Regions from separate parts of the Homo sapiens genome. Here region 2 is linked to region 1. The links come from fine-mapping of genetic effects on gene expression. A gene starts in region 1. The other region holds a variant in brackets. All regions are shown on one strand. Distances are between the middles of the regions. Region 1 holds the start of FOXP1 (forkhead box P1). Region 2 overlaps FOXP1 (forkhead box P1).

The links. PIP is the estimated chance that this variant, and not a neighbour inherited with it, causes the effect.
Region 2: its variant is fine-mapped to the expression of FOXP1 in whole blood (TOPMed, PIP above 0.99).

What each region holds. Positions count from the first base shown.
Region 1 is chr3:71,575,224-71,592,194 of GRCh38, reverse strand. FOXP1 (forkhead box P1) reads left to right here and starts at 8,467. Exons shown (of 21, transcript NM_001349338.3): 1 at 8,467-8,624; 2 at 10,498-10,646. It overlaps FOXP1-DT (FOXP1 divergent transcript), which reads right to left and starts at 7,252. Exons shown (of 1, transcript NR_182289.1): 1 at 4,786-7,252. RefSeq lists an enhancer at 7,983-8,277 and a silencer at 8,355-8,594.
Region 2 is chr3:70,973,022-70,986,558 of GRCh38, reverse strand. FOXP1 (forkhead box P1) reads left to right here. Exons shown (of 21, transcript NM_001349338.3): 15 at 8,530-8,731; 16 at 8,837-8,916; 17 at 9,517-9,618. Among named protein-coding and RNA genes, the nearest start is that of FOXP1-AS1, 310 kb to the left of the region's middle. RefSeq lists enhancers at 280-1,321, 9,314-10,513. The variant A/C (reference allele first, on the strand shown) is at 7,879.

The DNA.
Region 1 (16,971 bases):
GCTGCTGCTGCACTTTCTCTTGCAGTGCTCTTTGGCTATCCTAGCCCCAAGTGCCAAAATCTTAGCTCTCCAGGAAGACCCAGCTGCAAATGACTCTTTGCTGTATTGTCTTGACATGCCCCCACTGCAATGTGGTTCCTTACTCCTCTGCTGCTTCCTCTAAGGTATTCATCTTATGACCTTCTTTGTATTTACTACGTATCTTCAGCCAGTTAGACTGCAAGTTCCTTGAAAGTATGGACTCTAATATATGTGGCTCCGGACTGATTTGAGCAGAAAGAGTATGCAAGGGTGGACACAAGAGAGATGAGGCAAAGACCAACTCAACTCTTTTCCTTGGCTTTCTTCAGGATAGATCAGAGGGAGGGTAATAATAATGGTTGCTAGAGGTCACCTATGCATGAATTTCTTGAGTAAAATATCCCAGTAAAATTTTTAGGTTTTTAAATTAAAGAAATTGTGTTTTATTTTTATTTTTAAGACAAGGTCTTGCTCTGTTACTCAGGCTGGAGAGCAGTAGTGCGATCATGGCTTACGGCAGCCTCGACCTCCCAGGCTCCAGCCATCCTTCTGCCTCAGCCTTCCCAGTAGCTGAGACTATAGGTGTGCACCACCACTCTCAGCCAATTTTTAATTTTTTGGTAGAAATGAGGTCTCACTATGTTGCTGGGGGTTGTCTCAAACTCCTGGGCTCAAGGGATCCTCCCACCTCAGCGTCCCCAAGTGCCGAGATAACAGGTGTGAACCACTGCACCCAGCCTTGAACTCACTCTTCTGGGGGAGAAATAAAGAATCTTTCTAAATAACAGCACCTTCTAAATAGTGATGTTTTGACCTTTTGGTATTGTGAAAATGTGTGTCTTTGCTGCCATGACTCAGAATGTAGGCCAGCCTTCCTCCCCAGGATGTTTAGGGGGCTTATGGGGACTTACTCATGCCTGGGAAGGAATTTAAGAGGAAGTCAGAGTACCCTCTAAGTTTCTTTTCATCTCTTCTGATTGTTTTCACCCTGCTCACTTGAGAAACAAATCCTGTTATCCTAAACTGACATGGGACTTAGTTTCTGCAAAGAGTGACAAATGTACAAATGCACAGTGGCCTTGACAGATGCTGCAGCTCTGTTTTGATTTGCCCATTTAGAATTTTAAAACTGAGAAAGACTTTGATTTCTTGCCTCCCTTGAAAACTCAAAAGCTCTTCCCGCCCTGTGCTTGCTTTCCTGGTAATAGCAAATAGCACCTGCCACTTTTAGCTGAGGCCTGTGTGCTCAAATTTGCTGTAGCCCCTATGCCTATGCCTCCTTACTTCCAAGATTTCAGTTGCCTGATTTGAGTTCTATAGGCTGTGGCAGCAGCAGCACCTGTTAAAAACTGTTAAAACGCAGATTGCTGAGCCCTACCCATCTTCCGGAAGGAAGAGGTGTCATTTGTTTATGTATGTAGATATATACACATATACATGTGGGTACATATATACATGTTAGTATGGATTCATATAGATTTCCTTCTGTGGATTATAATCCAGTACTATTGTTACTTCTTTTCTTGCTCAGGATGTCTCAACTTTGGGCATTTGGGAGCTCTCTGGGGTTGCCTCCTGTGGCCTTTCAGTAAGCCTCTACAGAGCTGCCCCCCGCCCCCCATTTTGTTTTGGGTTTTTACTCCATCACAAGATGCTCCGTGCTTATTTTGTATTTTCCCTACCCCAACCCTGGAATTAACTAGCTCCTCAAGGATCCCTGATTTATTGTATTGGAGAAAGGTATTTAGAAACCAAGATCTGGGTGCTAGGTGTGCTCATTGCTATTGGATCATCATTGCTTCTAGTCATTCTGAGTGGACAGAGCTAGGGAATATATGTGTGTATACTTATGTATACTAATTTACACATATGTACACATATAGATTTATGTCTATATCTATTTATCATGTGTATGGGTGTGTGTGTGTGTGTGTGTTTGTGTAAAACCTGACCCCATGAATACCTTCAACTCCAGTCCAAGGCCAAAGGAGTCATACTAGCTTTGGGAAAATCAGATTTTTAATCTTTGTATAGTTTTAAAATTTTACAAGTAGTTCAAGGACATCTTGGGGAAATAAGAAAGCTTCTTTTTATAGCTATTTTATAGCCATTACTTCAAAAAACTCAACAAATCCCAAGCTTATGGCTGAGATGTCTCATCAACATACCACCATGCTTAATATCCTTCAGTCCCTCCTGAAATCTTCCATAGTTTGGAACACACAGCCTTACTGTTCCCGAAGGTAGGTAGACCTGCCTCATTTCCCTTCTCATAAAACACAGTTTGTCTCCAGCTCTACTGAACAATGCCTATTGTAACGCTGAGCTGGCACTTGTGCATTCTAAATGTAGGCCAAGACACTTCGCGGAGATTACAATCAGAACTTTGCTTTACATGTGAAATCTTATTTTGAATGCAGGTACACAATTACTCACTCAGAGACTTAATTACACTGCCTTAGGATAGTATTAAAACAATGGTTTTAATTATTTTTTGGGGGGGTGTTACAAAAGTAACCTGCTGTCTTGTTAGGTGGGTGAGGGGCCTTTACTACAGTCTTTCTGAGAACTTCACAGATACAAATTAACCTTCAGCTGTGAGGTTTACCTGTGAGTCCTTCATGTTTATTCAGAAAGAAACCATACTTGGATGGGGTCCCTTACTCTCGTTATGCTTAATGTAAATCTAGTACTGCTTGATGAACTGTTTAGAGAACTGGAAAGATAATCCAGCCAGGATGGCTCATGGGCTGCTGGAGGTGTGGCCCCTCAGTGGTTTGGAAAACACTCTGGGTTTTAAACAGCAGCACCTATAATTATGGAGGCGTCATCCCTTCCATAAAAAAAGAAAACAAAACAAAGAAAGCAAAGCCCTTCTACTAACAAGGTGTAGTCATAGCATGTGTTCAGCCTTTTCAAAACCTGTCTGGCATTTGTTTCTGGCCTGGTGGAGAGTATCTTCCATCTTTCTCTGAGCTCTCATAAAACAATACAAAGGTAAACAATTGGAGGGCAATTAGCAGTCTCTTTGGGGTAACAGGAGAGAGAAGTCACCGGACTATTAATGTCAAAGGAATTAATTATGGTTTGCATAGGTGATTGAGTGACTTAACTTTGCAAATGGTTGAAAAATAAGGAACCAACAAAGTTTATAAAAGATGCCAGTTTGGAGAATCATGTATGGCAGACTTACAGGACTACCTGTGAAATAGTTTAAGGCTATCAAGATATTGAGATGCAGCCTGTTGTATAAGGGGCCACATGTACTATAGATCACCTTTGTCCAACTTGAATGTGTGTGAGACTTGGCTGGGTGATTTTTTTAAAATACAGATATTTGATTCACTAGGTCTGAGGTAGGGCCTGACATTCTGCATTTTTGACATAACCTGGAGGTGGTGCTCTGCAGGTCAGCACATCTCATTTTGCATAGTAAGGCTGTAGATTGTTCTAGTACCTGTAGCAGATGGGGTTGAGCCACCCATACTCCTTTTACATGTTTCCAAGGTACCAACGTTGCACTGGGAATGCTCAGGGCATTAGAACAGCTTTTTGGATTGATGATACTTGGCCAAATGCTTCACCGTACCTTGTAGTTTATGAGGATTACAGTCCACTGAGACCCATGTTCATACAGTACAGTCATGCACAACCTCTTTTCACAATCACCAATTTAGAAAAACATAAAAATATTTGCAGGCCATATTTATTTATGTTTATATAACTGCATACTTTAAAAAAAAGCAGCAAGTGCAGTCTTGGTAACTAAGGTCTCACTCTCCAGTTAGAAAAACAGAAAAAGCACTATTGTTTCTAGATTTAACTCTGAGCCTCTTAAGTTTTGTTGTGGGGGAAAACACTTTTTAAGCTAGGGTCATTCCCCGTTCCCTGACTAGCTTTTCCACCCACTCAAATTATCAAATGTGGTTTTGTCTCAGAGTGTGCCTGTTAATATTGTATACTTTAAAACAAGAGATCCCCTGCTGATTTCCGGTGTGGACATATAGGGACATGAGGACACAGAGGATGGGCTCCTCTTACCACTTACTGTGAAGCACATGATTTTCATTAGCCATTTTTATCTTCTTGGAAGGCAACTGAGTTTAAGCTTTCATTTAGAGAATGGTCTGCCCACGCTTACTAACCTCCCCTCTCTGAATCCACTTTTCTCTTCTCAACCCTCCCTTCTTTCTTTGCTGTGTTGACCCCCACCTGGATGTCTGTCACATCTATGGAGAGAGGGTGGAGAGAAAGGACGGTGAGCAGGGGGTTGAACTTGTTCTTGACCCTCTGTGGCCTCAGTTTCTCCCAGATCTGTAAAGGGGTCTGTAGGTTAGCTGTTTCTGAGAAGCTAGACAAACCACTTAAGTCTGAGGATTGGTCACTTTAGTGGAAAGAGTGAGATGGAAACCCACAAAGTCAGGACACCTGGATTCTAATCCTTGTCCAACCAGTAACCAAATTTATTTTGCCTTGGAGGGCAAATGAAATCCCTGGGCCTTAGATTCCTCATCTGTAATGCGATATTCTTAGTTATGCCCATGTTTTTTAAAGTGTAGGAACCTTGGCACTAGGATGGCATAACACTGAATCACACATTGAGAACTGTATTCCTTTCCGATCACTTTAAATCCTTCTGGTTGTTAAAAAAAAAAAAAAAAAAAAAACAGAAAAAAAGAGAGAGAAAAAACAAAAATTCAAAAATTTCCATTGATACTCTTGTCCTTAACCCTTCTCAACATTTGCCACTCTCCCTCCTTTTTTCAAAAATCATTTTTAATTTTTGTTTTGACCCTCAAAGAGAAATCAGTGACTTTGTTTTTACTGTGCTTGTTTTTAATTTATGGTGGGTGATACTGATTTCCCATTTAAGGCAGTAATAGAAAAAAATTAAAAGAAGGTTGATTTAAATGAAAATGTTTGCTACAATTACCATAATAAGTGGCCTCCAATGAGTATGGTATATTAATTATTCGGGAACTGTTATGTCATATAGATATGGCAAAAATCAGGACACCAGTAACTGTGGTTAAAGAAACACTAAATTAAGTGGTTTTAGTTTTTGTTCAACTCAAAACTTACAAGAGCATTCAGGTACGTCGTCAGGTGGTAAATGTCCACTCCAGTTTCTGTTCCCCAAATGTACATATATTTAGTGACATGGTATTTGGTGAATGAAGCTCATGTTTGGTGTATACAATCAACAGTAATGTGACAGGGGACTAACATATTCTGATACGTTTGGGAAAATTTTGGCTGCAGTTAACTATAATTTGCTAATTTTGCATTTACATTGGTTTTTTTTTTCTCCTGTTACTTAAAATATAACGAAATGGGGACAAGCACCTTTGCCTTGGTGTAATTAAAAATAAAATTATGTCAGGAACATCTGTTTTCAGAAGGGATTTCTATTTGTTTTATCACCAAAAGGTGGCGTCCTACCCCCATGCCCTTTATTTTAAAACCTTTCTTGCTTTAATTTAACAAAAAGAAACTTCCAGTTGATTACTGATAAAGAAATTAAAATCTGCCCCCCACGAATGTAACGTGACAGTGTTGAAAATGAACAATATGTTAAGCTGCAGTTAAGTTTCCCTCTAATGTAAACCAAATGGACATCGAGTTCTTTAATAAGGCAGCACAGCACATTAGACAGTATCATACAAAATTGAGTACAATATATCATGGGATTTACAACCAGGATTTCCTTTTGTCTGCAAAACTTGTTGCCAACCTGACTGTGGCCCCCACTTGCAAGTGAATGTAGAATTTAAGGCAGTTAAAATGCAGAATCAGATTAGCAGCAATCTAAAGATCTTTTTAGTATTGCGATGATAATAATTTTTAATAAACACACTGCTTAATCTGAAAAACAAGATCAGAGGATGAATTGTTCTTTACAGACTATGAATAGATCTGTTACATTTAAATAAGTCGTTATTCCCCTGAGTTATAATTCTACAGTCAGGCATATACCATAAACATGTTATATTTGGCATAAAGTACTTTAGAAATTAAAAACCATTTTTAATAGGTTGACCACTACAGAACCAGTAGACTGGCTACTTTGTAGATTTCCACTTAATTCCGTGTGAATTCAGCATATGGAATTTCCAGTGATGTCAAAGAGTTGTTGGCAGTATTAACTGAGTTGACATAAAGCTTTTAGTTCAGTGCCTAGATCATAGTATTTAATAAATGTTAGATGTTATTATTGACAGCTTAGACTGTGAGCTCCTCAAGGGCAGGAATTTTTATTTTTTCATCCCTCTGTGCCCACTCTGTGGTCTAGCACACAGTGGGTATGTCATTAATCCCTTTATGTCTTGACAAACAAGACGTCGAACCCTAGCCTCTAGGAAGCTAGGACATTCCATACAAACTAAAATGCATTTTATTGGTCTAGATTCTAGTCTAAAAGATTCAGTGAATAGTCTTATCTGGATAGCATGGAACTTTATGCAGCATGCATGCAATGTGAATTCTACCAGGCTGAAATTACCTTAGCAGCCTCCCTTTCTTTTATTCTGTAGCATCAGCGAATGGCTTTGTTATTTTTTTTTTTTAACTTGCGAAAGATACAATTTCAAAGCGATAGTCTTATGCCACCCTTGAAATTAAGATTTAAGTTCTTCTGTAAATTAATGTTTAACAATATTTGTAAAGGGGCATTACGCGAAAGAATTTAATAATAACCTTTTCAGGATATTATCTACAACTGTGCTGGTCTCAAGACCAAAGGGACAGTAAGCCTCTCCCCTCCCCGCAAGGGGAAGTACTTTGTAGGAATCCACAGGGGTGACTTTTAATATATTCTCATAAAGAATTGGCCTGGTGTACACCAGCCAGCCAGTAGCTGGAAATGCTGGTTTGGGAGTCTGGCCACTTCTGTGGTGGTGGGTCTGAAAAAATTTACTTCTGTTAACAACAACAACAACAACAACAACAAGACATAGAGGTCTTACAGCTTTCCAAGTCACGTTTTGGAAACACATACTCTGCTTCCTTCTCTATGCGTATTGATAAAAGTGAAAGAAATACTAGTGTCTTTTGTTTTATGTATGTATATTTCAAAACATTTAATTCAGGCTCTTAGTTTATTCCTTCGAATTTCTAAATTCAACCAAACTTCAAAAACCGCAAAAAGAAAAAAAAAAATCTCACCTTTTCAAAGAATTGGACAAAGCTTTTTGCACGTGACTGATCACTGGGAGAGCAGGTAATTTGTGTTAAACAACGGACTGACATGCTAGCCCCCAGGCGTTTTCCTAAGAGGAGTCGTGGCAAGAACACAGTTCCTGATGCAGCCACCTTCCCCCAAAGTGGACTCGATTGCACATTCCTGCAGTGGCTCTGACAAGGGGGCAGAAGCTCGTCCCACATTCACACTCTCCTGATTCCGAGAAACAGGGGAGAAAACCCCTCGCTGGCTGGCGGGGTTTCTGTTTCCTTGCAAACAGGGGTTTGTCCTTCTGCTGAACTTTCACCTCCCGAACTCGCCTTCTTTCATTGGACAAAGTGCAGAAAGAAAGAGGAGAGACCGAGGGAGGACGGGAGAGAGGGAGAAAGGGGGTTGAAAACACCACCTCCCACCCCGCTCTCCTTCAACTGTCACTGATGGCAAAACACTTTCACTTTTAACTGGAGGAAACTCACATTCTAGCCTGTCCTCTCCCCTCCCTTTCATATTTTTAGCTCAGAATCCAAGCAAATAGCCATCGCATTCCCATCTTCGTCCCTAGTTAACACTCTCCCTTCTCGTTTTTTCCGCTGTCTGAATGGGCCCCCCATTTCCCATCTCCTGAGGAATCTCCCCCTCCGCCCCCCTGCCCCTTATTTTCCAGGTCTTTCCTGCCAGATCCCTCTGTTGCCAGGGACTGCTCTGGCGTTCCCTTCCTCTCTCTGGTCCGCGGGGCTCTGCCTCCCTCTCCTCTTTCCAATCCTGCCTGGACGCCCCTCACTTCCCCCTCCCTGGATCCCTCCCCCCAACCCCCCCCCCCATTCTTTGGCAATTGCGATTTTTTTTTTCTGGGAGCCCGGTTGTTTACCCAGCAGGTGGATGTGACGTCAGGGACGCACAACAGCAAAAAATAACAACATCTCCCTCCGCGACGTGTTGGCCTCTCTCGCGCGCCTTATTTATTTATTTGTTCCGGGATGTCGGGGGGGAGGGGGGAGGGAGGAGGGGGGTGGGCGCCAGCGCCCCGGCGAACGGCAAAGAGGGAGCCGCTCCCGCTCGGGGGGCCGCTGGAGTGCCCAGCGGGGTGCGTGAAGCGGAGAGGGGACCCCTGCGGGAGGTAGAGGGTCGGGCCGGGGTGCGCCCCCGGGCCGGTGCTGCCCGCGCCTCTGCCGCCGCCGCCGCCGCCACCGGCGCTGGCTGGGCTCCGGGAAGCTAGTCCGGAGCGGAGGAATCTATTGTTATTTATTGTGTGGCGGTTGCACGCTGTACTCGCGGCGGCCCGGCCCTCGCCCGGGAGTGCGTGTGTGCGCGCGTGTGTGCGCGAGTGAGTGTGTGCGCGGGGTGCGCGCGCGGGCGGGAGTGGGCGCGCGCGGGGAAAGGCCCGAAAACACCTTAGTTTGCACCGAGAGACCATTTGCAGCGGGTGAGTTTGTATTTTTCCATTTCTGCTCCACTTTTTCCCAAGCCGCCTCCTGTCTTGTTTCCGCCACTTTAAACAACAACAACAACCAGCACAAAAAAAAAAAAAGAAAGAAAGAAAAAGAGAAAAAAAATGGAAAAAAAAAAACAACTACTTTCCACCTCCAGGCTCCACGTGCATCTCCCCCAGCCCTCCCCTCTCTTCCTCTCCCCCCCGGGTCGAGGCCCAGCTCTGGGATGGGTGGGGGCTGCGGGCCGGCGCGCGGGTGGAGGGAGCTCCGGCGGCGCCCGCACCCTTTGGGTTTATTTGCATAAGTCAAATGGGGGCGGGGGCGGTGGCGACTGTGAGGAGGCGAGATCGCCTGCCCGTAGGCCCCTTCACGCCTCTCTCTGCGCTCTCCACGATCGCCTAGGGGAGAGAAATCAATAAGCCCAGGCCGCCTGGCGCAACTTTCGATGTCCGGCGTTGGCGTCCGGTGGCCGCCCGGGCGCGGGGCCGGTGCGGGGTCCCGGGTCCTGGCCGCGGCGGGAGGGGGCGCGCGCCGGGCGCCTCCTAGGCCCAAAGTTTAGACTTGGAGCAAACTTTTCCCCTTCTTTCCCCGCGGGTGTGTGCCCCCTCGGTGCCCTTGAGCTGCCCCGCGGGCCCCAGCAAACTGACTGTGGTGCCTGGCCCTGGGCCCCGCACTGGGGAACTTCCCCGCTGCCACGCGCGCGTTACCCCGAGAGTCAGCGGCGAGGAAGCTCTCCCGCCACCCCCTCGGAGCCCGGAAAATTCAAACACGCACCTGCGCACCCCCAGCCAGACACGCACCCCTACGCGCGCTCGGCCTCCGCTTTCCCGAGACGAGTCCGCAACAGCCGTGGCCAGATCCACGGGTGGGTGCGGGAGCCGGATGCGCTGCGAGGAGTCGCCGCGCCCGGATCTCTCTCCCACCATCACACACATTTTCTGATTTTACCCCCCTCTGAAGCTTGGGGGACGGGGAGATTTCCCAAGCTCCGATTTGTCCTGCGTCGCGCGCGTGTCGCCTCGTCCCTCCGGCCCTGTCCTGGCGGCCGATGGCTCTCCGTCCCTCGCTTGCGCGCAGCCTTCCTCCCGAGCTCCCTGCGCTCTATTCCTGTCCCGCCGAGACGACTCCCTGGAGCCAGCGAGCCGAGGCGGCGTGCGCTTCGAGTGGGGACCACGGCGGTGGCGGCGGCGCCGGGAGCCGAGGAGTTTGCCAGTTGCCGCGGGGTCGCGGTCATTTGCTGCCTCCGCCTTCCCTCGCCCCCGCCTCCCGCCTCCCTCCTTTTCAGACAACGTCGCGCTCGGAAACTTAGATTCCTTCTTCTTTTTGGCCCTCGACGAGCCCCCCTCCCCACCTGTTGTGAGCTCCGCCTTGGTCCCGGGAGACTGGCAGTGACACACACGGGCTCTGGGGAGCTCCGCTCCCGGAAACAAAGTCGCATGCCCCCCTCCCATGTGTTTGCTTCGAAATCGCTGCCTGCAGCCCCCCATTCCCGCGCAGCTCCCGCCCCCTGTGAGAATAAGGACTAAATAAACAGTTGTAACTCCAAACCTTGCGCCCGTGATCGTATCCCCATCCCACCCCCTTCTCCCTATTCCTCCCCCCTCCTTTTTGTTGTTGCAACTTTGTGAGATCCTGGGGAAGGTGCTGAGACTTTGGCTCGGGCCGATTTCCCGGTCTCTGGATCCTTGCAGGGATTCCCTGAGCCGCATCCTCTCTTCCCTCCACGCGCACTCGCGGGTCCTCGGAGCCCGCTGCCCTCTCTGTCCTGGCCCCTCGGCCTACTCACCCGTCCCGTCCCCTTCAGTTCCCCCCAGCCTGCACGGGGAAGACTTGCTGAGGGTCGCCCCGGTTTCTTGTCGACTGCAGAACCCGAAAGTTTGTAAGAGGAAGAGAGCGCGCGGCGAGCGAGCGAGCGGGCCGGGGGCAGCGGCAGCGGCGCCGGGGACCATGGTGCTGCCGGCGCCTCCTCCGCGGGCGTGAAGGCGGCGCTCCTACTCCCTCCCCGGACTCCGCGGGTAAGTCGAGGCGGCCGCGGGCGCGGGGTCCAGGGACACCGGAGAGCCCCAGGCGGCACTAGGGGTTCTCCGTCCCCAAAGAGCCAGCCGGGGTGGCGCGAGCCTAGCGATAAGGCACCGGGAGCGAGGAATGTGCCCATCCTCAGGCCGGTAGGTGCTTCGAAATACTGGACTTCCTCCCCTCCACCCTTTTCCCCTCTTTCTTTCCTAAATCTGAAAATCTGGAGATCAAAGTTTAGCGTGGAGTGTAAAGTGCTCCGATAAAATATGGTGACATCCTCGCCCCCCTTCTCACCCCACTCCCCTCTTATAACTATTAATTATTTCCAAGTCATTGTATCCAAATACCCTTGCTGGGCTGATTACAAAGTGTATTGATTTAGTCTGGGCTCATCCTATGCTTTCGTCTTAATTCATTTTCTTTTTGCTCTACCAGAAGACCCAAAATGAAACTTATTTCTTCCTCTTCCCTACCTCCCCACCCCACAAGCCCTCATCTGTGAGGCTTGGGCAGAATAATGAAATTAATATAAACATTTCATTTGGTTGCATTTGACCTTATGCAGTCCACTTCTGAGGGGCTGGAATTGCGCTCATGTCTGCTCACAGGTATTTTCCAAGTTAGCATTTTCTTTTTTGTCACTGCTCTTTAAACAGGAATGCCGGAGGAGCATTCTGGATTCCCTTTGAAAGGCATCTGTACATTCAAACCGTCTACACTTCACCATTGGTTGTACGTAGACTTAAGGGTTTAGGGCTTGGACAATAGCTGAGTTGAGAAGACCTCAAGGATATTTAAAGGAATTTTTCTGCTACTGAAAATATATTGAAGAATCGCTGCAAAATTTTTCCATTCCATCCCCTTTCCCCCACCCCCGTTTTCCACAGCAAGAATCAATTTGGAGGGAGATGTGTAAACTAGAATTTTTAAAGAAATAGTAAGACTTCAGGTGTTTTCTACCCAGGGATAGCCTACATAATTGAGAAAGAGGAGTTCCTGCTATTTTTCTGTTCCAGAGAGAAATGTATCAAATCTTTTTTAGAATTCCACTGGAGTTTTGATTCTCAAAGTGGAAATACCCATCCCTTTGGGTCCAGGAAAAGAAAACTCAGCTCACAGTTTCAGAAATTTGGACTGTTTTTTTCCCCCCTCTGTCTTTCTATTTGAAACGTCTCACAATTAAAGAGCAAGAAAAATATAAAAAAGGAACTCAACTAGTTACCATTCAAAAGGTGTCAGCTAAAATCTCACTGCAAAGGGAAAAAAAAAGGTTTAACATCTTGCCACTGGCTGCATCCCCCACCCCCCTTAGACTTTGGATTAGTCATTGTATGAGAGAGAGGGAGAAAAAAAAAATCACTTTTTTTTTTTTTTTGGAAAAGTAAAGTAAACAGCCTCCAACTGCTGAACCTTGACAACCCAAATTAAGGAAGCAGGAGAGATCAAACAGAACTGCTGCTGGGTGGTTGTCAGGAGCTGCTACACGGAGAACCCTGGACTATTCGATCAAGCAGCAAGGCTATATGTTCACTTATGCAGAAATGGACCATTGCAGATGCTAATCTTTGTTGTGCAAGCGAAGGCTCACTTGGAAGGAAATACTCAGCCCCTCTCTGGGCAGCATTTGAGTTCCTTATGGATGCCGAGTCGCGAAACAAGTTATTTTTTTTAATGTATCCTTCTTTATGAGGAGAATGCTACCCAAAAATGTATTAAAGGAATATTAAGTCGTCCAGAGACTGTCTTGCTACCAAGAACTGTGCAATGGAATTCTTTTTACCAACATTAGACTCCTACACTAGAGTTAGATAACGTTTTCTCACATTGAGTTTAGAAGATCTGCCTTGTCAGGGAAGCCAAGGTTTTGTATGTGAGAGTTTAAATCTGATGTGAAGCTCAAAAAAAAAAAAAAAAAGAAAAAAGAAAAAAAAGAAAAAAAAAATCTCTGGTGATGAAGTTTTGTGTCAGCCCACTCTTGGAATTTAAAAAGGCGAGAGAGAGCAGTCTCCAGATTAGACAACCTCTTTTTTTAGATTGACATTCAACATGACCACGTTGCTACTTTTATTCAAGTTCTCTGTAACTTGTCCTTGCTTGTTGTCTAGGAAAATTTAACTACTTTACATTTTTAAAGGGAGTAGTAACAGTAATTACTGTAGCATTTTGTTTTCACAGGTTTATCAAAGTATAATGAAAGAAACATCAACTATTCAAATTAACTGTCTCAGATAAGGGGTTTATATTGCTGGAGATGTCTAAGATTTTGTGTTTATATTTAAATCGTGGAGTATAAACTGTGTAACACTTTTTTTTTTCTGGGATAAACTATCCCCAAATTAAATGTTATTTTAAATTAAGTAGAACAAAGTAGGAAACAGGATAAGTAAACACATACAGAAGAATAAAAATAATTGTCATTTAAGGATTATATTTTTAATTAACAAGTGTCGGTCACATAGTAAGCAGTTTATATATTTTTTGTAAGCCAGAGTTTCATAACCATGGTGCACAACATGTTTCAAAGTCTGTAGTTTTTACTAGATATACCTTTATTGTATAATTAAGCAATGTGGGTTAAACATACACATGGATGCTATTAGGCAATTTTCTGCAATATGTAATGTTTTGAAAACGCTATAAATATTTTCTAGTTAAACCATTTATACTTATAATAGCAAAAGTTAACTGAGTTAATATTGAGCCTAGGCATGGTTTTCTGTTACTGAGTTTTTCTTTGCCTTTTTAAAGACTATACCCCTGGCCTTGTAAATTTGCATCTTAGGCTCTGTTGAAGGGTATGTCTGTTTTCAGCAGTTGTTTAAATTAACAGAAGAATTGTGATATTTTTCAAATATATTTATATTGCAGGGGGTCCAGTGCCAAAATTAAGAAAGAGAAGGAATATAGCAGATGTGACAACTTCTTTTGAACCCAGCTTCCTCTTTGCAGCCAATCTTATTGTGCATATTTATTTGATTTTCATGTTTTACTTATGACTCAAACTCAGTTTTGAAACACTATCTTGTAAGATTCCACATCTCAAAAAGTATGTATATTTAGACAAGGTTAGGTGTTACAGTACCTATCACATTTCAGTGGGAATGCCAAGAATATTTACAGGGTATAGCAAGAATTTTGTCCTTTAAAAATAATTTTAGGTATACGTTAATAAAACCGAAGTAGATTGCAGGCTGTCAGAACATAGTATAAATTTTGTTTATGATTCTGTTACTTTAAGGTACTTACATTAAAGAAACTCATTTAACCCGTGACTGAAGAGCATTAAGTGGGGAGGGAAACCCTCTGAAGAGCTCCTACTGCCCTTTGCTCTCCCGATAATCTTAAATTACTACAATTTAATTGCAACTTCAAGGCATTCAGCATGAGCTGTTTCTTCTCCACGACCGAGAAAGGGTTTCCAGAGCATGGCTAGATTTACACAGGTGGTATTTTTGTTTTTAATTTTTTTTTTCTTTTTGCTAAGGGCTTTTCCTTTCTTCCTTATCCTGTCAGATGTCACACTTCTTTTATAGATTTCAGTCATAGTAAATGCCATTTTTGCTATACCAGCAATATTGGCCTTCTTTTTTTCTTTTTAAATGTGTTTTTTTGAATCTAGAGTATATAAACCTCTCAAGCAGGTAGGGGTTTGTTTTCTAAAGAAAATAACCTCAAGAAAGGCATCTGCTGAATAGACAGGTGAACTTTATACCTGAGCCAATGTATACTTTTACTATTTGCAGGGGATTTTTTTTTTTTAAGTTGATGGTAGTTAGTCCCACCAGGTGATCAAACATTGAGTTTGTGAGACAAGCCAGCAAGCCAAGTAGGTTTGCACTTGGGCCCATGCATTTTTTTAATGATCTTTCTTGTCATTTGTTACTCTACTCTGCAGGCCACTTTGCTATACATATGCTATCCAAGGAACCATCTTAAACTGATTTTTCAACATATTTCTCTTCTCCGGTACTTGGATGAATTAAGGATAAAGGCTCCAAAAGCTGGAATGCCAGCAGGCCTTGAGATGAGGCAAGTTCCTGAAACGGGCAAACCTGGCGAAATTTGGGGTATCTTCTGCATGATAGTTTTTTTCCTTTTTTTTTTTTCCTGGGACGTTTGTAGTTTATTTCAATGAGCATGTGACCATGTGCTTAATGGAAATTAAGCAGATTTGGCTTGTGTCGCTAACCTAAAAATAAATGTTGTAAGGAATATTTGATTTCTAGAAGTGTTTTGGTTTTGCATCCCATAGATAATGTTCTTACAGTTAGGGCTACGAGGCTGGTATTCTGCAAAGAGGAAGTACAATGGGGGAAAGTGCATGGCAGTCAGGAAAGACAATTAGACAGTGTTCTTTGTTTCTTTAATAAATTATTCTTATTAATTACAGTCAGTTTGTGCTAAGGCATTTTTCAATCCTTGTTTAGAAGTCAGCTGCCATTCACAAGAAGGTTGTGCCAGAAGCTGTGTTCTTCGCACGCACTGTTGTTTTACCCAGTCGTGAAATCTATTGACCAGATTGGCTTGTGGATGTCTCTGCAAGGCTTGTTTTTCTTTTTGCAATGCCCTGATGCCAGTCTTTAATACATGCCCTGCCTTGTACACAACAGGTGTTTGTTCGGTAGTTATTTTATGGGACTTAGAGTGAGAAAAAAATGTTTCCTATCTAGCCAGCCGCTGTGAGAACGAGTGCCTGAAAGGGAGAACCTACCTAGTACCTGAACAGGTGTAAATGGGTGTTTCCTCATGACCCTCCCCAAGCTGTTTTATTTCAAAAGGAGGGGAGGGGGGCTCAGTTTAGTGCCATGAAATTTACAATTCAGTTGTAATAATTTAAGGTTATTGGTAGAGTGCAAAGGGCAGTGGGAGCTTTCTAGTGGTTTGGCCTTGATGCTTAAAGCTGCTCAGTTGTAGGGTTAAATTAGTTCCTTCAGTCTGAGTACTTAAAGTAACTAAATCGTAAACAAAATTTATATTCGATTCTGACAACTAATAATCTATTTAAATTATATTAAAGTATCTGGGCAAAAATTTAATTAAAGACAGAAGTACTGTCAAGCCCTGTAAATATCTTGACAGGTCTACTCAAATGGAACTGATATCACGAAATATTTACATATGTCTGCTGTGTTCGGGAACATCTCAGCAGTGCCTGTGCAAAGCTAATTGCACTTTCCTTCCAAATTGTATTTTTAATAAAATAGTTTTTTTTTTAAAAAGGAATATGAATACATACACAGTTGTGTTCCAGTGTTCTGTTTACTATTTACTTCTCTATACTCAGAATCATGTTGTGATGAGTGTATTTCCTCAAACTGCTGCTAATTCAGATAAATAGCTGAAATGGGATCATTGAATAGAAAGCCCATGTCATTCTGTTTGATTTCAACAGTTTGAAGATATCAGAGGCTAGCATGTTATAGGACAATTTACTGAGGGAAAAATGGATCTGAATGTGGGATTATTGGGCCTTGTTTATGTTCAATAGAATAGATTTGCTTAGGACAAACATTTTCTCTGAGTTTTATGTTTGGACATATATTTATTTATTACTTGTAAGTCAGGTGGACATCCACATTTTACCAGATGCTCTGATTTTAGCTAATTTTGTGATTCACTTTGTTTACTAGGACACTGAAGAATATTTCTAGCATCAAACTGAATTTCCGAGGTGTCCTTTCTCCCTCCCAGCTGTGCAATTGAGTCATAATGTGACTTTCTCTGCTCCAGGTTCCCTGCTTTTGAATTAGGGGTAATATTTTAACATATGTTCTTTGAGCTTAGGGATCCAATGATACAGGGCTTTGTTATTACTCACATTTTTAAAAGATATTCTTGGTGCTCTCAGGACAGTGACCGCAGCTTTTGTTGGGGGAGGGTGTGATGTGAGTTTTGCTTGAGTTTCTTTTGCCCTGGTGCCTACCTCCTGATGACCAGTGGCACTGGTGGCTTCCCCTCCTGGGGGTGAGCACAGAGATGGAAGTGAATGCTCATGTCTGAAGTGAAGGGAGGTTGCAGTTGGTCCTAATTCAGCCTGGTTCAAAGTGAGGTCCTCGCTCACCTACCTCTGTATCTGTGTGTGTGTGTGTGTATGTGTGTGTGTGTAGGTTATTAAAATACAGATCCTTGAGTCAGAATTTTTGCTGATTGACATGGTAACGTACATTTATAACAAACTTCCCTTGATAATTCTGATGCATGCTAGAGACCTGTGAATCAAGTGATTTATTCTTTCAGATGTGTGGAACTGAAATCTCTATCTTCACTTGGATTTTACTGATGATTTCTTTGATTTTACCTTGAGGCCCATCCTGTGTTGTTTTT
Region 2 (13,537 bases), 600 kb after region 1:
CAATTGCACAGGGCATTCACTGCCTTGGAACTTTTTGAAAGTCTTCAGATGGCTTTAGTGAAATGGTTTTCCCAGATTGAAGGGTTCAAATCTTTGCACCTAGCAGCAAGCGAGAGAATGAGATTATCTCTGTCTTCCTCCACGGATTAAAAACAGTGATAGGATAATGGTTGGACCCAGCACTGTAGGCCTGGATCTTGGGGCTTCTTGGGAAGAGGAAGGATACAATTAAAGATAAGGAACTACAAAACCCCGTAGGGCGCTTGGCGAGTGACCGGGCTGGGTGTTGGCAGAGAGCACCATGTGTGTAAGCCCCTGTGGGCCACAAAAGGACCATTGGGATTCTTCACGTGGACCAGTGTTAAGCAGCTGGTAAACAGGGAAAAGCATGGGGGGAAGTGAACAGGGATGGAAGGTTTGTCTTGATTAGTATTAAAAAAAAATGTTTTACTTTCTAGAAAATTGTAACTTTGAAGGGGACCTCCTACTAAATTTATTTTTAACTGCTCTATTGAAAATTCTCTACCACTAGTCAACATTATCTCTTAGTAGCTCAGCACAGTATTTCTTTATTAGAAGAAATCGGCACGAATATTTTTGACTGAAAAATTAATAGCTTTTGAATTCATACACAGCAGGTTTTCTTTTGCAAAGAAGTCCAATATCGCTGCACAGCACTTCTATAACCATTTATTTAGAGTCCAAGTCAAACCTTTGACAGCTAGAGCAGCGCTACAAGCCAATATAAAGAACTCCAAGATGTAAACCAACAATAGGCCGTCTGTGTGAGGTTTGCCATTGTCAAATACATAGATTGTTTGGATTAGTTTATGTAAATGTACTGTTGTATTACCCTTTGAAAAAAAAAAAGATCACATTTGTGTATGAAAAGTGGTTCCCTTCACAGGCAGCATTATAAATTCCTTATCCTTTAACTTACATGTAAGAAGTAAAAATTGGTGCCTGACAAGCAGATATTGTGTGACACTCTGTTGTCGGAGTGAACCTGCCTTCTTTTCATTTATTGGAAAATAGAAAATTTTATTAAAGATACCATCTTATAAATCAGGAATTATTAAAATATGTATAGGTGAGGCATTGGGAAATTAATTATAAAAGGTAGACGTGTAATGTTTTGCATAAATTTTCACTTCTTTGCCAAAAAGAAAAAAAAAAGGGCACACACATACAGCAAACCCTTGATGCTTTCAACTTTAAGGGCCCAGAGCTATCTGGTGACTGATTCTCATGTGCAAAATATTCCCTGCAGTCTGTAATTAATTTATTCCGCCCTAAATAATAGAATGCATGGCGTTTGTTTGAATGAGTATCCTTCTAGAATCTTTAATTTGAAACAGGCAGTCACCAGGATTCAAATCTAACCATAGATGGGGACTTTCATGTTACAACCTTGCCAGTAAGTTCATGAAGCTTTTTCTTTTTTCCATTTCTGTGTAGAAGAAACCTCGTGTTTATTTTAAAATTCTTAGTCACTAAGTGATAGAATGCTTTGCTGTAAATGTTGCTTTTCACTAAATGCCATTTGGGTGTTAAGTGTCATTTGCTGTATCCAATCATCCAACCAGTCCTCATTTCATTGCATCAAAGAAACTGCTAAAACGTTCTTAGATTGTTTTTACATCAGCTCATAGACGCATTTTCTGGATCTTATTGTGGGACTCATCAGATTTGGATAGTTAGAGGATACGCTCATCTCGGGAAGGTGCCCAAGTTTTTGGACATGGATCTGAGGAAGAAAGCTTATGGGTGAACTGGGGCAGGAGCTCACGGGCTTCCCATCCCTCAGACTCCTTCGACGGCCTTTCTTCCTGCTTGCTATCACATCTCTTTAAACCTAAGTAAAATCTTCCTTTCAGAACAAAACCAAAGACTCAAGGTGCAGGTTGGTTATGGAAAGGGAATTTCTGCATTTAAAATCAAACTATTCCATCAACAAATATTTCTTGAGCATGTGACATACGTGACAAGTAGTCAGTCACATGAGCAAGGCCCATCCCTGCCATGGAGGTGTTCAGAGTCTGGTAAAAGAAATAACAGATAAACTACATACATACTCACACAGTCTCACTTTCCGTGAATTGCACTACCTGTAAGTAGAACAGCTGACCCAGAATGGTAAAGTCAGGGGAGATTGCTGGGAGAAATGATGTCTAAGCTGAAACCTACAAGATGAGCAGGAAGAAATGGTAAGAGGTCAGCCTTGTGAACCTTTCCTTAGGTTAAGAGTGGGTGCCCAGATCGGTCCCTCTGATTGGTGAGTATCAGTGTAGAGGAAGAAAAGGAATAGCCAACATCAGTTAAGACAAGCTTTTCAAACTTTTAATTTTATAAAGACTGGACCCTGCGTGGACGTATGTAGTATGTGTAAGTTGACCAGAGCAGCCCTAAGCTCTAGCTCTCAGGTACATAGAGCCGAAAAGCAGTTCTTACATTTAGAATGGCCACATTTCTTGTTATTTTAAAAGATTCTATTCTTTTCTATGGAAAGAAAAGCAAAAACAAACAATAGTAAACTGCCCTAATGAAAATGATTGATATTCTTTTGTTCCAGACTCAGTAAACATTCTCAAAGTAAACACCCAAATGTCTTGCTTGGAGGTTAATTTCTCCGTGCTTACTCTGTGGAGAATTTGCCAAGATACTTCATTTGGGGGAGGGAGTGAAAAACTAAGAGGACAAAACAAAAACAAAAAGAAACATGTCTGTGATATGATGACTTTATTAAATTACTACGGATTTCTTAAAAAGACTTTTCACACTCTGTCATTATGTCAGGAAAACACTGTAAATCGTATTTTATAATACTGAGTACATGAGAAGAACGCTTTGCTTTAGGGTATTCCTGCACATCAGAGAACAACTTCTGCTCCTGGAGAAACCACATTCTTTTAGATTTGGTGGGCACGTAATTACAGTGTAGGTGGTATATTCTTCTTGACGAAAATCTTATAAAGCACTTACAGGAACTTGGATATTTGTAATGAAATATAGTATTAGATTTTCATTTTTATACATTTTCTTTTCCTCTAACCATAGCCATTAGGACTGTTTTGAAAGAGTTTTTAGCTCCTATAAAAACAAAGTGCCCCCCCGAAAAGAAAGGGTCTTTTAACTCTTCAAGGATCATTTGGGCTGCCTGGGTCCTTGCTTTAGAGTTGGAGAAATAATATTAAGCAGTCATAAAAAGGGATTCTTAGGCACAATACACAAAAGCTGTTTTATATACTGTTTTTCATTAAGTGCCCCACCCCCACCAACCTTTCAACTAGAATTTTTTTGTTTTTGCTTTTAGTATCCCTGCCAGTACCACCACCTTCTAAGTAAGTCATAACCTTCCACGAGTTCGCTTCTCTAAAACAGGGCCAGGCTGAGATGGTAAAGGAAAGGAAAGGAAAGGCTTGTAACAAAGGCTGCCACCCATTGTCCTGCCCTCCGCACGGCCTGGTAACGTCCCTCCAGCCTCAGAAAGGCCGTCTCTGAACTCAGTGATTCATGCCCAGAAATGACACTGCCATGCAGTTAAAGCAGGACTTGAGCTGGCTCAGGCCAGTAAAACAAGAGCAGAAAAACAAGTTCTGTGAGCCCGAAAGTCCCTACTACGCAGTTGTGTCCCTTGGTGTTTGGGTTTCAGGTTTGTCTTTTGTTCTCAGAATCTGTTTTCATGTGAGGCAAGAGCACAAACAAAAATAAAAATGAGTTCTTATGGGAATACTTACAAGTCTGTTTCTGTCAGGGGTTTACATCAGCAGTTTATTTTTTTAATGTGAGTGACTCATCATCTTTAAACAGGAGGGGAGATTACTGTTAAAAACTAAAGAAAGATTAATTAATTAAAAAAAAAAAGGGACTAAGCAGAATAGTGGGTAGCCAACCAAGTTTGAATAGTTTCGATGGCTAAAAGAAAAGCTGATGCCTGAGAGTACAAATAAATTTAAAAAATAAAACCCTACAGCAATTTTAAATGACATAAGAATTTAACTTTTGGCCAGAGTTTCAAAGAGATTATCTTTGCTGAAATCATCACATGATGGAAACTTGCCATGTAGAAAATATCAGAGTTACTGACTTTTCTAAACATAGCAACTTCTTTTAAATAGAAAAGGAACACAATAAGAAAAATAGGCTTTCCATCAGGAAAAGAAACCCTCCCAGTCCATTCCCTTCCTGCCCCATGCCCCAGAAAAAATTATCTTTTAAAACCTGAACTGCAATCAGAAACACAAAGCACATATGCTTTCATTTCTAATTGATGATTACATTAAGATTTAATAGTTTACAATTAAGATGAATATTTCAAGATTACAGCAAAAACACACACCATTCCCCATTTGCTCTTCTGTTCTAAGTCTGTAATTAATTTTTTTTGGGGGGGCACTCTTTTTTCAAAGAGGCCTTAATTAAGAGAGCAGGTTTGGTTTGAACACAGAGCCTGCTTTGAGTCTTTCTTCTCCATTCTTTCTCTCTCAACCTTCCCTTTCGAAGATGGTTTCTCCTCCAGACAAGCATGTGATCATCAAACAGAAGTTTAAAAGTTAAGAAACTTCTGTACCAGTTGACAAGGTTGACATTTCATTAACTTGTTGGTTCAGCCTTCAAATGATTTTGTGTGGCAAAGCACCCTGTGTTTGGAGTGTACAGCTTTTTCTTCTTCCTTCCCTCACGGGCTAGTCATGTTTAATTTGGAATCTGGGCTCCTTTGGCAAATTAGCAATTAGAACAATTTTGTGGGAATATGTATATGTGTCATTAGTTTTCCTGCAAATTAATAGCAAGGGCAGAGGTCAGGCAGAAATTTTCCACTTGACTGCAGCTCCTCTATTGAGACTTGGCACTTGGTTTTGGAATGGCCACAGCTGCTCTCAGCCACCCTCTTCCTCTAGGAACTGTCTTTTAATTAGTTTACCTCATAGCCATCATTACAAATATTACTGCCTCCCCTCCTCGAAATAAAATTACTGTTTCTACAAAATATTCCAGTGACATCTTGCACCACTGCACATTGATGGTGGGGTCAGTCGAATGCAGCATTTAATCATTAGATCACCTCCATCCGCGTCTCCTAATTAGAGTCCTTACAATACATTTTTATCTGGTAATTAGCTGAGATTGGCTGCTTCCTCTGTGGCTTATTAGAGACAGCCCAGCAGTGGGTGTGAATCACGGTGTCATTTGTCAAGCCTGGTAAGCCCCCTCTCTGCTCTCTTCTGGCTCAGTATTTATTCCCACTTGCTAATGTTCAAAAGCCTCCAGAAAATTCTACCTTCATCTCTTCCTTTGTGGATTGTGCTAACTTGGAGGGATTTTATTTTTCGCTGTTGCTTTTTTTTTTTTTTTTTTTTTTTTTTTGGTAGAAAGAGTCCTAGTGGTGCGATCTTGGTAATAGCTACAAGGCTCACATCCTTTCGGCATTTTGATGACATTTTACTGTGGGATTTGTCTATTCTTCGTAGCTGTGAACACCCAAAAAGATGGGCTTGCACTTGCTGAATGAGTTTTGATTTCTGACAATGAAACTGGAACTCAGTTAACTTGGTGATCTTCCTCCCAAAACTGAAAGGGAGCAGGCATGAAGGACATTTGTGTTTGTAATTTTCATTGCATCTTTCAGAAAGCCACAGTGTTTAGGGAAAAGTTCTTAAACTGAAAAGAGAAGCCGAGAAGTATAGTCAGTCCTCAGAACTGCTTTGTGGTTACTGTGTACCTTTGCCCTTTGACTGACGTATGTGTTTGATGGTAAGCGCTTCAAGGGCAGCAATTAGCTGTTTTCTTCCTGTTTTTGTCATTGTAGGAGTAACTGCCTTATATTTGCTCAGTTACACGTGTTGATTGTCATGCATAAGCAGGGATAAAATGCTCTGCACGGAATCTTTTCCAAAAATGAGCATACAGAAAAATGAAACTGGTTAGTGTTCATTTTTGCTATTAACTAGGCATAAGATGATTATACAAAGGATCTAGAATCATACAAGTGTGTGGTTTGACCTTGGGTCTGGGTTGGGAATATGGGCAAATTATTTAATCTCTCCAAGCCTCAGTTTGCTTATCTGTAAAGTATGAGTAATAACATCTCAGATATTAGTGGTGGTATGAGAATTGAAGGAGACCACACAGTGGCAGGTGGTTTTAAAACATGATTTTTACAAATGTTACCCATGACTTTCCAAAGCGCTCTGAGATTCTTAGGCTTAGCAGCGTCTGAATTATAAAAGCTGTATATTTATGAGCATTAGCCTTTCATGCACTAATTTCCTTGACCCTTTGCTTGGGCTGATGCTTATACATACTGTTCCTGGACTTGGTCAGTGATTAAGGCCCGAGGTGAAGAAGAGGTCAGCCCCAACTCTTCCCCCCTTGGCTTCTCAGCTCTGCCCCATCCTGCGGCTGCTACTCTGAACTGTTCACACTTAGTTTGCAAATGTGTGTCAGAAAGCCAGGTTTCCAACATTATAGAGAAAAACCCGCTCATGGCATCTGCTCAGCTTGCTGGGGCATTTGTAAGGGCAGTGCCATCTCCAGAGCTTGCTCTTCGCAGGCATTGTCTCTTGCTCACCGAGACAACATTCTACGCTGAAAATAAAAAGGAAAGCACAACTCAAAGCTCACAACATTCTGTTTCCAGCGCCATGTTTACATTTTTCCATTAGTATTTCTTCATGATATTTGATCTTTCTTTTCTTCAGGTTCATTGCTTTTTTATGAAACTCTCCTGAAACATATTAGAGAGGATTCTCAGGCCCCCCTCCCTTTTTTTTTTTTTTTAACTAGAGTGTGAGTAAAGGTCGAGTCTTCCCAACATATTGGAACTCTCTTTTAATAAGTTCTTTGATTATGATCTCAGAGGAATCTCATTTTTAATACCTTCCACAAATACTGCCTTGTACTTAAGACTGACTATAGCAATGGTGAATTAGACTTGGTGAAATAGACTTACTATGGTAAGTGATTTGAAATCTGGTTTGAGAAAATATTACCAAGTAAGCCTACTTTGCTGAAGTTTATTGGATTTTAGGGTGGGTCTGTGTATCTGAGACAGCACATAAACAGTAATACATACGCTGAAAACAACCAAATTCTTCAGCATTGCCAGACGTAAAATAATATTTCTGTTGCAACAAATTTTGGGGAAGGGTTATGCCTTTTAGTATTTGTAAGAACAGTACTTTAAGGTGAAGATAAGAAAGATAAATTGAAACAGTGCTCATTAATTTATTTTTTTCTTTTTTTTTTTTTTTTTTTTTTTTTTTTTTTTTTTTTTTTTGAGGTAGAGTCTCACTCTATCACCCAGGCTGGAATGCAGTGGTGATCTCAGCTCACTGCAACCTCTGCCTCCCAGACTCAAGCTATCTTCCCACCTCAGCCTCCTAGGTAGCTGGGACTACAGGCATGTGCCACCACACATGGCTAATTTGTGTGTGTGTGTATGTGTGTGCGTTAATGGAGACAGAGTTTCACCATGTTGTCCAGCCTGGTTTCAAACTCCTGGCCTCAAGAGATCCTCCCACCTCAGCCTCCCAAGGTGCTGGGATTACAGGTGTGAGCCACCATGCCCGGCCTATTTTATTCTCTTCTACTTCAAATAAGTAATATTCATTTCCTAACTTGAAGCAGATTATTTCCCATTTTATAGAACATTCAAAACTTGAAGGAAAAAAATCAAAAACCTCAGTTGCAGATCTCCCGTATTCTGTAAAAGAATGTCACAATAAAAAAAATTAACAGATCCCAAGCCTGTATTTGATAGATTTAATAAAGGTTATTCATAATGCTGTTAAGGATTATTTTCTGCCAACTGATTGATTGATTGATAGAAACAAATGACAGCTGGTGGGGTCAGGCCCATTGTGTTTAATATGAGTA[A/C]TAAATAGGCCACACATATTTGCAGGAGTTCTCGTCATCCACGAAGCTGCATGAGGGAGCTCAGTAGGCTCTTCCTGGGCTGTCTAGTATGGTAGCTACTAGCCACATGGGGCTCTTTCCATTTACATTTATTAAAGTTTAATTTTAATAAAAATCAAGTAAAAACAGCTCTTTGGTTGTGCTAGCATATTGCAGAAATTCTGCTGGACACTTCTTCAGATCTACACCAGCGTATCCCAACTGGTGTCACCTAAAATACTCAGCTTCACTGGTATTGCTAAGGACTTCTCTCCCTCTTTGAGGTTGACAAGGCCTGATGGGCGATCAAAGCCTATAGGTGAGACATCACAATGAAATAAATGTCTTGACTCAGGGTTTCTCACACTCCCTCAGGTAGGTAACCCCTTTTTGAGCCTGTAAACACCCATGTAGCAGCCTTTGGAAAAGAGACCGCTGCCAGAGATATCTTACACTGCATCCTAAGTGAATTCACGCAGGACTCACCGTGTGTTTCGGTTCATGGTAAACATACCATCTACATAGAGGAAGAAACGGTGCCCACGCATCCTCTGTGTTACTCCTGCTAGATGTGGTTCCTGGGTTGCTCTGGTTTTCTGAAGGTCTTCTAAGACGTTGTTTTTTTCCTTGCAGTTGAATCTGGTATCAAGTGTCACTCTCTCCAAGTCCGCATCGGAGGCTTCTCCACAGAGCTTACCTCATACTCCAACGACCCCAACCGCCCCCCTGACTCCCGTCACCCAAGGCCCCTCTGTCATCACAACCACCAGCATGCACACGGTGGGACCCATCCGCAGGCGGTACTCAGACAAATACAACGTGCCCATTTCGTCAGGTAGATACTCCACCTTTTGCCTCACGTAGAGTTGTAATCTGCAATTCTTGTAGACCAGCCCCTTTTGAAAAAGTGATAATTAATAGGACAATGATTCTTATTCAGCAGATATTGCGCAGAACCAAGAATTTTATAAGAACGCAGAAGTTAGACCACCATTTACATATGCATCTTTAATTAGGCAGGTAAGTAAATAACACAGTATATGAAATTCTGTCAGAAGGTATATGTGTACATGGATATATATTGATGAAGTAGATTTAAAAACCGTTTAGTATGCAAGCATGCTGAAACCTTTTCTATAAGGTTTTTTAAAACTGCAATATATAACATAATTGCTTTTGATTAAGTATTACAATACGATGTGATTATTAGGAAATTCATTTCACACAACAGTGAAAATGAGCCTGTTTAAAGATGGCAAGTCAATTATCACAAGCTACAGTAATCTCTGATCCCTAGAATTAATCTGAGCTCTAAATAATTACTGAGCTTTAATCAGCTAGTGAAATGTTTTGCATTTCTCTTTGATTCTGCTTTATGAATGACTAATAAATTAATATTTCTGTACGGAAACAGAAATAAAAACTCAAAACAATTAGATAATTCCATTTTGAATTTTGCTATTGAACTGTTAAATACAACCATTAATCTTAGATCATTTTGTAAAACCTTTCTCAGGATTTAGCTCTGAATCACAGTGATTTTATATTTTCGAGAAACTGTGGAATGACGACTCTGCTGATTTGGTCATAAATTATCTTCTGTTACATTCTGCTTCACAGGCCATTCTCGAATCTCCAGAAAAGCAGCTAACACTAAATGAGATCTATAACTGGTTCACACGAATGTTTGCTTACTTCCGACGCAACGCGGCCACGTGGAAGGTAAGCTTTCTCAGGCCTGTTTATTCTTGGATCTTGACGTTCATAGAACAGTTTGTTGTTGATAAAATGCAGTTGTGCTATAAGGAAGCTACATTTATATTGTTTTGATACTCTTAAAGTGTCCAATCTCTAGGTGTATTTGATTGGGAAAATAGTGCCATTGTGGTTGAAATGCTCTGATGGAAGACTCCCATTATACCAGCATCAGCAGTGTGGAGGGGCCAGCCAGTAAAGTGATCTCTCTCTGGTTGGAATATGTAGAGAAAAGGAGACAACACCGTCGCCCAGAAGTGGAGGTTGCCATATTACTTGCACAAACCTCATGCCGTTAGGTCTTCAGCCACAGCCGATATTTGCAGAGATGTATCTCCAGCGATCTATCTCCAGAGATGGAACCTGGAGAAATGACCAAACTTGACACAGCCTTCAATGGTTGGATAAATAGCTCATTAACCCAATTAGTAGAGAAAGCTGTGCAATCCAAGCACTAGCACTGTTTGTAGGAGTTATTAATGGAGAACACAATGTATTATTAAGGGGCAGGGGTTTTTGTTTTTCTTTTTTTGGTTTTAAGTCAAGAGATTGTCGGCCAGGCACAGTGGCTCATGCCTATAATCCCAGCACTTTGGGAGGCTAAGGCAAGAGGATCACTTGAGCTCAGGAGTTAGAGACCAGCCTGGGCAACGTAGCGAGACCCTGTCTCTACAAAAAAAATTCAATGAATTAGCCAGGCATGGTGGCATGCACCTGTGGTCAACAGCTACTCCAGAGGCAGAGGTGGGACGATTGCTTGAGGCAAGGAGGTTGAGGCTGCAGTGAGCCCTGTTCATGCCACTGCACTCCAGCCTGGGCAACAGAGCAAGACCCTGTCTCAAAAAAAAAAAAAAAAAAGGAGATTGTCCCTCATAGATATACTAAGGAAGAAAAGTAGATTTCGAACTTCATTATATTCATTATAATACTATTTGCTGTAAAAACAAGTCAAATTGCATAGCTCTTTATTGGATGCCCCCAGTAGTGCTTGGGGTCATATATGGCTTACCTCATTCCCAGGTCAGCAGCTGGCTCAAAGATTCCACTGGTATTTACTCCCTTATATTAGATTGATCCCTCACATATTTTTGGGCTTTCCCATTTTTGATTTCTTGGTGTCTAATATTCTTGCTTATAGAAGGGGACAGGTACACTCTGTCATTTGTATTTTTGCATTTTTTACTACCTGGAATTCTTGTAATCCCTGAAATCCAAAACATTTAGAGACATGTGATAACAAACATTTGAGGCTATTTTTACATGCCATTAATCTAAATATGATAAGGATGTGTTATAGGACACAAGGAAAACTTCCTTCGCCTGAAATAAATGCCTTCCTTGCTAATTCCTTAATTTTATACCGGAGAAAAACCAAAGCAAAAGACAGAAAAATACATTTCCTCTGTTAAGTTCCTGATAAATTAGCATTTTAAAAGAAAACGAATATAACCATAGAATTAATTCATCAACTTTACAGAGCTGTGAATATCCATTATGGCCCAAATTATCCTTTCATTTCCATTAAGACACATGGGCACTGAAGGGAACCTATGTTCAAAATCTTACCCTCTTTGCCTCAGCCTGCCTTGGAAGATAAAATATGAAAGGATCTTTAGCCATGAATGCTTTAAAAAATTTAGGAAGTCGAAGCATGAGGCAGACATTTTCTTCAGATTGCCTTTTATAAATAGAAATGATGAAATTTAAAAATAATTACCAGTTGTGAATATAATATTTAAGCTTAGATCTTCAGATTGCACTTTTTCGTTTTGCAAACTGCAGGAAAAAGTGTCATTAATATAAACAGCCTTAGATGAAATAGTGACTCATAAATACGTATAATTTTCTGTACGTGTCCTTGTTTGTACCATGATCTTAGACAAAAGATGAAATGCCCAGTTAAGGTTATGACTGAAAAGAGCTTACACATCTTTTTTTTGAAAACTCTTGACTTCTCGTCGCTTTCTGCTTAGATGTGCAGTTTTGGAAAACAGAACTGAAGTTTTGGCTTTGTGTCTTTACTCACATGGTTATATTGCTCAACCTGATCTACAGAAATTATTTTGTCAAAAGTAGCTTTAAGACCTTTCATTTCTGTACATTTTGATACTTATTTTAAAGCATCAAGCAGTGATTAGGATTAGGAGCAATGTTGACTTCTTTTCAAGTTATATCTCTTACATGTGTCATGCCCTGTCTGGATTTTTAAAGGAAATTGGCTCTGTCCGTTTATTTATACCACCTCAATTTTGTTCCAGTAAGTAACAGTAGACCTTCTATTGTATGCCTTTGGGCAATATATTTTTTTAAAATGCAGCCAAATGCAGTGGCTCCTGCCTGTGATCCCGGCACTTCAGGAGGCTGGAGGATCACTTGAGCCCAGGAGTTCAAGATCAGCCTGGGCAACATAGCAAGACCCCATCTCTACAAAAAATTTTTAAAATTAGCTGGGTGTGGTGACACATGTCTCTAGTCCCAACTACTCAGGAGGCTAAGGCAGGAGACTCGCTTGAGCCCAGGAATACAAGGCTTCAGTGAGCCATAATTGAACCACTGCACTGCAGTCAGGCAACAGAGCAAGACCTAGTTTCAAAAAAAGAAAAAAAAAAACTGCTTATTTAGACTAGACTGCAGTTTATATGCATAGAAAATTGTCCTATCAAGTGTATGACATGCCAAATGTTTTCGGTTTAGAGATTTTTATTTTTAAGCAAATCCTTCTTCCAACTTTTTTGAATCAGGAGTGTCCTTTCATAGTCACCTGGGTATCTTGAACCGACCTCAATTATGCTGACATTACTCAAAAACTTTTTGGGAATTTATCCTGTGAATTCTCCTTTCAAGCAATTCATCACACCATGCATTAAAAAACTTGTCTCATTATCTTCTAAATATTCCATATCAGAAAAGAAAAATCATTATGTAGCTTGAATCCTCACAGCCACCAATTGTGATTGTCCAAAAACTGAAGCACCTCTCAGAGTATCAAGATTCACCACCGTTAAGGATAATTCAGGAAGGAAATACTCCAGGTGGCAGAATGGGATGTGTTGGGGGGTGGGGGGGGGGGGGCGGTGTGCAAAACGCTTGTGCAATAGCAGTGTTGCTGGAATTGAGTGAGGACTTTACCCAGTGTGATGTATGTATCAACTTCTCAAGCCCCAATTGAGTCACCTACTATTGAGTCATCTACTTACTCTGAATAAGAAGAAAATTTTAAGTAAATGACCTGAATCTCTTTAGAATGTCTTCATGTCCAGCGTTGAGTCTGGATCCGTAAGTTTAACCAGGCGGGACTAAAGAAATGAAGCCTTGCTTGTTACTGTACCCAGTAAGGGTTGGGGATTCTTCTGAAACCCAAAGGAAAGATGAGATATTAAAAGCTCTTCACCCTTGAGTTGAGATCCTCCTTTTTGATAAATTATCGATGTTAAGGGTCTCAGCTTAGGAATGGCCAGAAAGGACTTTTAACCATAAGCAAGATATGTCTGCAGAAACCATCAACTGTAGGAATATAGTCATTTTGCCATTGAGAGTTCCACTCGTGTTCCTTTGGCATTTACTCAGTTAAAATACTTGCCGATAGTTAGGGCCAACTCTCATATTCTGGAAGGTGAGACATAACATGATAGCTACTGATCTCTTGACCGGGGCGGGGCGGGGCGGGGGCGGGGGGTCCGTTCACCACCCCCCGATCCTTTGACTATACAAGGCGATACTCTCAACGGTAAAATCCACTTTAGAATTCTTCATAGGACCTCTGGAAGTTTTAAAAGCCAGAAGCCATCAAGAACAAAACTGTATTTAGCAGTATTAACCAAGTGTTCCTCTTTCGTGGTTTGAAAAAAATACCCCCTTTTTATGGGAGGTAGGTGGGCTTAAAAAG